3 linked regions of the Homo sapiens genome follow. The protein of the gene in region 3 interacts with the protein of the main gene of each other region in a pairwise test. Each region holds a gene or a part of one and is shown on either strand. Other genes may lie near its edges.

Evidence for each region.
Region 1: the proteins of FBN3 (region 3) and NUDT21 interact in a two-hybrid assay, tested with the Homo sapiens proteins (one large-scale study listed by BioGRID and IntAct).
Region 2: the proteins of FBN3 (region 3) and ANXA7 interact in a two-hybrid assay, tested with the Homo sapiens proteins (one large-scale study listed by BioGRID and IntAct).

Annotation. Positions count from the first base shown.
Region 1 is NC_000016.10:56,431,483-56,434,332, reverse strand, and holds part of NUDT21 (cleavage and polyadenylation specificity factor subunit 5), read left to right. Parts: coding exon 1-2; intron 3-1,599; coding exon 1,600-1,621; 3' UTR 1,622-2,850. UniProt on the Homo sapiens protein: Component of the cleavage factor Im (CFIm) complex that functions as an activator of the pre-mRNA 3'-end cleavage and polyadenylation processing required for the maturation of pre-mRNA into functional mRNAs.
Region 2 is NC_000010.11:73,404,059-73,407,558, reverse strand, and holds part of ANXA7 (annexin A7), read left to right. Parts: intron 1-3,500. UniProt on the Homo sapiens protein: Calcium/phospholipid-binding protein which promotes membrane fusion and is involved in exocytosis.
Region 3 is NC_000019.10:8,066,779-8,069,978, reverse strand, and holds part of FBN3 (fibrillin-3 precursor), read left to right. Parts: intron 1-3,200.

The DNA.
Region 1 (2,850 bases), on a different chromosome or scaffold from region 3:
AGGTACAGAAAGTTGAACATTTTTTGGTTCATCCATATTAACTGTCAAATTTAAAATATTCTGAGCCACTTGGGAAGGTATAGTTCATGAATTTTGGTCTTTAAGGAAACTAAGAAAGTAGATAGACTCTTAGATCATGTGCAAGCCATAGATTAATTGTGACTAATACCATCCCCAGACTCTTAAGTTTCGGCATGACATTCTGGTATTTGTGCAACTGCTCTTCCCTAATTCTGATATTCTCAAGAGTTAAGGTTGATGTCTTTATTCAAAAAAGAGATGGTTAAATAGCAGTCAACAGTGTGTAAATATGAGCGGAGTTGTCTGTATTAAAATGTGGCAAATTGGCTGGATGTAGTGGCTCATGCCTGTAATCCCAGCACTTTGGGAGGCTGAGGCGGGGGTGTATCACCAGGTCAGGAGTTCGAGACCAGTCTGGCCAAGATGGTGAAACCCCATCTCTACTAAAAATACAAAAATTAGTGAGGCGTGGTGGCCAGCGCTTTTAATCCCAGCTACTTGGGAGGCTGAGGCAGAGAATTGCTTGAACCCGGGAGGCAGAGGTTGCAATGAACTGAGATCACGCTACTGCACTCCAGCCTGGGCGACAGAGTGAGACTCCATCTAAAAAAAAGAAAAAAAAGGTGGCAAATCGAATATCTTGGTGTAATATATTCGTTTTCCTTTTTTGAAACTTACTATATTTTGGCCCAAATTGAGGCTTGTGGGATTAGGTCCTGAACTTTTACGTGGGGTTTGAATCTTTAGGCAGTTAGAGTGATAAGAAATGCAGTTTTTTAAAAGTTGACTTGTACTGGTTGAGGTCTCTATTAGAGCCAGCCATATATAGGAATTGCAGAATAACATGGTGGTTATGAAAGTAGATTCTGCAGTCAGTGTTTTGGATTTGAAGCCCAACCTCAGTACTTGCTGGCAGTGTGACCTTGAACAAACTATTATACCTATTTGACTGTTTCTTCTTCTGTAAATGGGGATAGTAGTCTCTACTTCAGAGGATTATGAGGACCAAGTGAAATAATGCATATAAAATGCTTACAACAGTGCCAGTAATCTGGTACATACTTAATAAATGTTAGTGAAATTGGCCTTTTGTGAAAGCTTATTGAGTATGAAATTGCTCTTTCTACTTCGTCACTAATCAAACCTTATCTTTTGCCACTCCACTTTGGCCTCCTGATAGGTTACAAGTTGAAATGCATATGGGGGGAAAAGAGTCATATTATTTATTCAAACACCTACTTGTCAAGTGCAGGAACTGTGCTGAGTAGTCAGAGTATAAGGACATGTAGAAACTTTTCCTGCCTTAAAGAACTTATTAGTGGATAATTAATCAAATTTATAGTCTTAATTTTTTTTATTATAAGTATTCAACAAGTGTTTTTAGTGTGTAAGATGTGACCAGTGAGGGAAAATTGGTGTAGAAAATGCCAAACGTGGTAAAAAGGCATTCGAAGGGGAAAAAAAGAAAATGCCAGACATGCTAAGGGAGGGCAGAAACATCCAGATAAATTTATTTATCTAATATGGAAAGTAGTATGTACTGTCTTTAATAAAGGTATTGTTCTTTTTAAAATTCAGGTTCAATTTTATTTACAACTGAATTCCTGCGCAGTGGAGAAGTAAAAGAAGCCGCTTGTCTCTGTGAGCACAGCTATATACAGTGTAGAATAAATGTGGTAGAAAAGTTTTTTTGGTTTTATCTCTTTTGCGATCCCTAAATTGCCACCTTTCTATTGTTTGAATAGTAAAATTAATATGAAGAACTAGATAGTGGTGTAAACAAATGTGATAATGTTTATTTACTTTCGGTTCTGCTCATACTTTTTTGTACAACATTAAAGAAAATGGACTTTTTTTATTTTAATTTCTCATTAAACTTCTAAAATTCTTATAGGTGAGGATCATTTTTCCCCCCACCTTAGGATGGTGAATGTTGCAACACAATGACAGGTTTAAGTCAGTCAAGTTTATTGGACCCTTGCTTTGATACCATTCTTGGGCACATACTCCAAGATTGTATTAGATTTTTGTGATGAAGAGCTTCCATTACTTCTGAAAACTATATTTATCTGAGTGAGTCCAAGGTGCAACTCCTAAATGAATTGTGTTGCAGAGAACTCCCAGTATAATTCACTGACCAGTACATTTTATAACCATCCAGGCCTTGGTTTGCAAGCAACAGACCTTAAACATACAGGAAACTATTAAAATTGGCTCGATCAGTAGTCATAGGAATTGGTATAAGAAGAGACTCATTTAGAGCTCAGAGTTTTCTTCACATAATGGGGGTATTAATTATTTGTGCTGTTGCGAAATTATGTGTCTTATTCTTAAAGCCATGGTAAAAATAGGGATCTGTGAAGGAAATTTCTAAAATTGGATGTATTAGGTTTTGAACTCTGAGATTGCACAAATATTCAATTAACTTGAAGTTGTGTACATAGAGAAGAAAATTTGGTTTTAGCAAATGACAGAGCCTTCAAAAATATTTTTGGAATAATGTGAATCAACCGAAAACTGGGGGCAAGGCAGAGGACAGGTTTTCTCAGGTTAAGAGAAAAACGAAATTTTAAAAACTTTAAAAAATACTGATAAATTCGGATCAAATTTGGGGGAATAAAAAATATTAGAGCAAAGGAGTTTGCTGGTTGTGTCATTATTTAATGATCAAAGTATAGCATGTATGCCTTATTACAGACTTGTTGACTATAGGCTTAATGTAAAAAGGAATCTTGCCAGATGTAGCTACTTAAGGAAAAAAGGGTTTTTAATAGAAATGAACTTTTGATTAGTATGGTGCCAGTCACAGGGCTATTTTCCTGAATATTG
Region 2 (3,500 bases), on a different chromosome or scaffold from region 3:
TTAGGTGTAGATCCAGAAATCCCAAAGTATTCTGGTATCAGAGTGTGAATCACAGACCTGCAGAATCCATATCACCTGAAAGCTTTAGAAATGCAGAATCTCAGGCCCCATCCTGGAGCTACTGAATTAAAATCTCTATTTTAACACGATCCCTAGGGATTCATATACACATTAAAGTTTGAGGCCAGGTACAGTGGCTCACGCCTGTAATCCCAGCACTTTGGGAGGCTGAGGCAGGCAGATCACTTGGGGTCAGGAGTTTGTGACCAGCCTGGCCAACATGGTGAAACTCCGTCTCCATTAAAAATGCAAAAATTAAGCAGGTGTGGTAGTGCGCACCTGTAGTCTCAGCTACTTGGAATGCTAAAGGAGGAGAATCGCTTGAACCCAGGAGGTGGAGGCTGCAGTGACCCGAGATTGTGCCACTGCATTCCAGCCTGAGCAACAGAGCAAGACTGTCTCAAAAAGAAAACATTGAGAAACACTATTTTAGTCAACTACGTTGTTCAAAGAAGGAAGAGAGGAGACTTGAGCTAGATAGGAGGGGTGAGTAAGCCCAGGCTTGAGGGCCAAGTCAGTTAATGATAAGAATGGCTTAAGCAAAGGAATGCTGGGAATGGTTCAAGTGATAGAGATTTCACGTTGAGGGTTAGGTGTTGGTAAGAAATGAGTTAAATAGATAAATAGAGGGTGGGTGTGGTGGCTCATGCCTGTAATCCTAGCACTTTGGGAGGCTGAGGCGGGTGGATCTCTTGAACCCAGGAGTTCAAGACCAGCCTGGGCAGCATGGCGAAACCCCGTCTTTACTAAAAATACAAAAAATTAGCCAGGTATGGTTGTGTGCACCTGTAGTCTTAGCTCTTCAGGAGACTGAGATGAGAGGATCATCTGAGCCCAGGAATTCGAGGCTACAGTGAGCTGATGTCACACTACTGCACTCCAGCCTGGGCGATAGAGCAAGAAACCATCTCAAAAATATATGTATAATAATAATAATTGGAGCCAGTACTAAGGAGACCTGTATATCAGGCCAATTAATTTTCATTTGATACTCCAGCAGTAGTCATTGATGATTTTTGAGCTGAAGAGCAATTTGCTGAAAGAGCAGCATTTTAGGAAAGTTTAGCTAGTGACAGTGTCTGAGAAAATTGGGAGGGTGACAGAGTATAAGCAAGAATATAAACAGAGGAGGAGTTTTAGTAAGACAGGCATCAAGTGATGAAACTTGGTCTAAGTATATGACCATGAGAACAGAAATTACAGAAGAGGCATTTCAAAGGATGGATAGAAAAACACTGGTTTTGGCCGGGCGCAGTGGCTCATGCCTGCGATCCCAGCACCTTGGGAGGCCGAGGCGGCCAGATCACCTGAGGTCAGGAGTTCGAGACCAGCCTGGCCAACATGACGAAACCCTGTCTCTACTAAAATACAATAAATTAGCCGGGTGTGGTGGTGGGCGCCTGTAATCCCAGTTACTCAGGAGGCTGAGGCAGGAGAATTGCTTGAACCCAGGAGGTGGAAGCTGCAGTGAGCCGAGATTGCACCACTGCACTCCAGCTGGGGTGACAAGAGCGAAACTCTGTCTCAAAAAAAAAAAAGAAGAGAAAAATACTGGGTTTCTTACTATACTGGAGTATTAGGTAATTTAAGTAGTGGTGCTATTGACAGATAAAGGATGTTAAGAGTGGTGTGGTGGAGAATGACGAGTATTTTATTATACACATACAGAAAGCCTCCTGATTGACTTCTGTCTTAATCTGCTCCTTAGTCTATTTTGGTGATCATCCGTCTCACAGTTACGTCTCACCTTTTGCCTTGCAAATAACATTGTTCTACTTTCTTGCCTATCTGTGTCTAGCACCTTTAAAAGCCTGGTTTAAACCTTTGATCATTCACTCTCCACTTGTAGCAATGTTTTCTTGTAGATGCCAAAAAAGTGATTACTGACTTTATATAGATGTATTTGCCAGGTATATTATATCTGATCACTAATAGTATTTTAGATTTTTTTGTTGTTGTTGAAATGGAGTTTTGCCCTATCACCCAGGCTGGAGTGCAGTGGTGTGATCTTGGCTCACTGCAACCTCTGCCTCCTGGGTTCAAGCAATTCTGCCTCAGCCTCCTGAGTAGCTGGGCTTACAGGCACATGCCACCACGCCTGGCTAATTTTTGTATTTTTAGTAGAGACAGGGTTTCACCATGTTGGCCAGGCTGGTCTCGAACTCCTGACCTCAGTTGATCCGCCCACCTCAGCCTCCCAAAGTGCTGGGTGTATTACAGGCCTGGGCCACTGCACCCAGCCTTTTTTTTTTTTTTTTGAGACAGTATTGCTCTGTGGCCCAGGCTGGAGTGCAGTGGTGCAATCTTGGCTCACTGCAACCTCCACCTCCTGGGTTCAAGGGGTTCTCCTGCCTCAGCCTTCCAAGTAGCTGGGACTACAGGCACATGCCACCACACCCGGCTAATTTTTTGGATTTTTTATAGAGATGGGGTTTCATTGTGTTAGCGTGGATGGCCTCAATGTCCTGACCTTGTGATCTCCTCAGCCTCCCAAAGTGTTGGGATTACAGGCGTGAGCCACCGCGCCCGGCCCTAATTTTTGTATTTTTAATAGAGACAGGGTTTCACCATGTTGGTCAGGCTGGTCTCTGACCTCAAGTGATCCACCTGCGTTGGCTTCCAAAGTGCTCAGATTACAGGCGTGAACTACTGCGCCTGGCCGTGTTTTAGATTTGATCAGGCTAAGAGGGTATTCTTTTGAATGTTTGTTTTTTTCTCTGTTTATTTACATTTGCTTTAGGTTAATAGTGTTTTCTTCAAATGCAAAAGATATATATATATATATATATAGGGATATTTGTCTTTATCCACACTAGCTCCATTTATTTTACATGAGCCATCTTTTCAACAATGGACAGGAGAGTGTAATGAATCCCCATGTACTCATCACCCAGCGTGAGCAGTTATCAACTCCTGACTGCTTATTATGTCTAAATTCCTGCACTATATTATATAGAATATTCCTGCATATTATTTTGGCATAATCCCTGACATCGTATCGTTTTGTTTGTAAATACTTAATGTGTATCTCTAAAAGATCAGAATACTTGATGAAAATCATAGTACCATTATCACACCAAAAAAATAGTAATGTCTTAACATCACTTGATGTGCAGGTTATTGTTTACTTTTCCAAATGGAAATGAGCACCTTTTGAAGAACATAACTTTCAAACTTTCTGGTACAGACTGCAGTTTTTAAAAGATATTTCCAGTGTTATGTTTGCTGATCAGAAGACTATCAACTTTTGATCACCATTATTATCACAGAATAGATAATATATGAATGCCTCCTTAATCTCAGACTAACCACACTCTACCACCCTACTTTCTTTTTCCATCAGAAAGCATTCTAATTTTAAAATTATTCTAAGTCTAATAAAATTGAGAAAGTAAATGTACTGAAAGTGTTATAATGAATTAATAAAAGCCAAACTTCAT
Region 3 (3,200 bases):
TAGATCAAGACAGAGAAGGGCTAATTTTTGTATTTTTAGTAGAGATGGGGTTTCGCCATGTTGGCCAGGCTGGTCTCAAACTCCTGGCCTCAAGTGATCAGCCCACCTCAGACTCCCAGAGTGCTGGGATTACAGGTGTGTGCCACTGTGCCCAGTCAAGGCCAGGATTTTGAGACCAGCCCGGGTAACATAGTGAGACCCCCTCCACCTACAAAAAGTAAAAATATTAGCCAGCTGTGGTGCCATGTGCCTGTAGTCCCAGCTACTTGGGAGGCTGAGGCGGGAGGATTGCTTGAACCCAGGAGTTCAAAGCGGCAGAGAGCTGTGATCACACCTCTGCACTCCAGCCTGGGTGACAGACAGACCCTGTCTCAAAAATAGGGCTGTATTGTGCCTTTGCCTGCAATACCCACTGACTGCCAGCAGGGGTCAGTAAGAGCATAAGTCTTAACAACATTCCGTGGGAAGAAGGCCTGAGATCTCCAGAACTGAGGGGCTGGGGAACAGGAATAACTTTCACTTGAATGCAACAGCAAAACACTCCGTCGGCATGTAAATGAGGCCAAACCAACACAGTGCTCCCTAAAACAAAGGCAAAGAAAACACAGATGACTTTCTGTGGGGTTGGATACGTCACCCAGCCCTGGGGTAGCCTGCCATTGAGGCTCGCTGTCTTATTCAGGGCCCTGTCCAGCTGCCAAGACCAGGAAGGCACTTCAGAGGAGCTTAAATAAAGAAGGGTTTGTCATTGGCACACAAGGGGCTCTCAAAGAGGGCCAGATGCAGGAAGCACAGCGGAAGCTATCAGGCGGCTCTTCTGTCTGGTCCTTTACGCTCTCCTCTCCAGCCCTGCTTGGCATCCCGTTTCTCTCACTGTCAGCTCTGGCATTCTTTTAGGGGCTGGCTTCTGCTGAAAGGCCCTTGTTCCTAACACCAGCCATCCCAAGACATTTCTGAGTGACCTTAGGGCTCTGGGTCGCAATGTCATCTGAATAATCCCCTGGCTGCTGGGTCTCTGAGAGCAAATCTTTGATACCTTTGGCCCAGGCTGGCAGGGGTCTGAGCAAGGTCCCTCAGCTGGGACTAGGGGTCTGTAGTGTGTAACAGTGGCCGTTTCCCTGCCTCTCTCAGAAGCAGCCTCAGCCTTATGCCACTGAGTCTACAGATCCAGCTGACCTTGCGGATGAACAACCAGACTTGAGATGCCAAGGGAAGCAGTATTTTCCTCCACTTTATTTTTTTATTGATTTATTATTTATTTATTTATTTATTTATTTGAGACAAGGTCTCACTCTGTCACCCAGGCTGGAATGCAGTGGCGCAATCATAGCTCACTGCAGCCTTGAACTCCTGGGCTCAAGCAATCCTCCCGCCTCAATCCCCCAAGTAGCTGAGACCACAGGTACATGTACCACCACACCTGCCCAGCTAATTTTTGTATTTTTTGTAGAGACGGGGTTCACCATGTTGCCCAGGCTGGTCTCAAACTCCTGGGCTCAAGTGATCCACCCACTTCAGCTTCCCAAAGTGCTGGGAGTACAGGCATGAGCCACCGTGCCCACCCTATTTATTGATTTTTTTTTTTTTTGAGACGGAGTCTTGCTCTGTCGCCCAGGCTGGAGTGCAGCAGCGTGATCTCCACTCACTGCAAGCTCCGCCTCCTGGGTTCATGCCATTCTCCTGGCTCAGCCTCTGGAGTAGCTGGGACTACAGGCACCTGACACTACGCCTAGCTAATTTTTTTTTTTGTATTTTTAGTAGAGATGGGGTTTCACCTTGTTAGCCAGGATGGTCTCAATCTCCTGACCTCGTGATCCACCTGCCTGAGCCTCCCAAAGTGCTGGGATTACAGGTGTGAGCCACTGCGCCCAGCCTATTTATTGATTTTTAAAATCAATTTATTTTCTTTTTTTTGGGGAGCAGGGTCTCACTCTGTCACCCAGGCTAGAATGCAGCAGTGCAATCATAGCTCACTGCAGCTTGAACTCCCAGGCTCAAGGGATCCTCCCACCTCAGCCTCCCTAGTAGCTGGGACTACAGGTGTGCAACACCACACCTGGTTAATTTCTTGTATTTTTAGTAGAGACAGAGTTTCACCAGGTTACTCAGGCTGGTCTCGAACTCCTGGGCTCAAGCAATCTGTCCACCTTGGCCCTCAGCCAACTTCATGTCTTTTCGTAGCACATCTTGTCACTTTTACATTTTCCATTTATTTGTCTACTATCTGCTTTGCTTTACTAGAAGGTAAACTCCCTGAGGGGAAGGATTTTTATCTGCTCATTGCTAAATCCCCAGTGCCTCAAAGATTGCCAGGAATTCAGTAGGTGCCTAATAAACATATATATATTTTTGAGACAGGGTCTCAGTCTGTTACCCAGGCTGGAGTGCAGAGGTGTGATCACAGCTCACTGCTGCTTCGAACTCCTGGGACCTCCCACATCAGCCTCCTAAGTAGCTGGGACTACAGGTGCACACCAGTACTAATATTTTCACTTCTTGTGGGTGGATGAGGTCTCACTATGTTGCCCATGCTGACCTCAAAATCCTGGCCTTGGCCAGGCACAATGGCTCACGCCTGTAATCCCAGCACTTTGGGAGGCTGAGGTGAGCGGATCACTTGAGGCCAGGAGTTTGAGACCAGCCTGGCCAACATAGTGAAACCCTGTCTCTACTGAAAATACAAAAATTAGCCAGGCATGATGGCAGGCACCTGTAATTCCAGCTACTTGGGAGGCTGAGGCAGGATAATCACTTGAACCCAGGAGGCAGAGGTTGCAGTGAGCCGAGATCGTGTCACTGCACTCCAGCCTGGGCGACAGCAAGACTCCATCTCAAAAAAAAAAAAAAAAGAAAAAGAAGAAGAAACAAAGAAATCCTGTCCTCAAGCAATCCTCCTGCCACAGCCTCCAAAAGTGCTGGGATTATAGGCATGAGCCCCTGTGCCCATCCTATTTTTTTAGATTGAGAGGGTACAGGTTTGTTATTAATAAATGGATATATTGCATGATGAGGCAGTTTGGGCTTCTGCTGATCCCATCATCCAAACAGTGAACATAGTTCCCAATAGGTAGTTTTCCTTTTATTTATTTATTTATTTGTTTTGAGACAGTCTTCCTCTGTTGCCCAGGCTGGAGTGCAGTAGCGTGATCTCAGCTCACTGCAACCTCCACCTCCCGGGTTCAAGCGATTCTCCTGCCTCA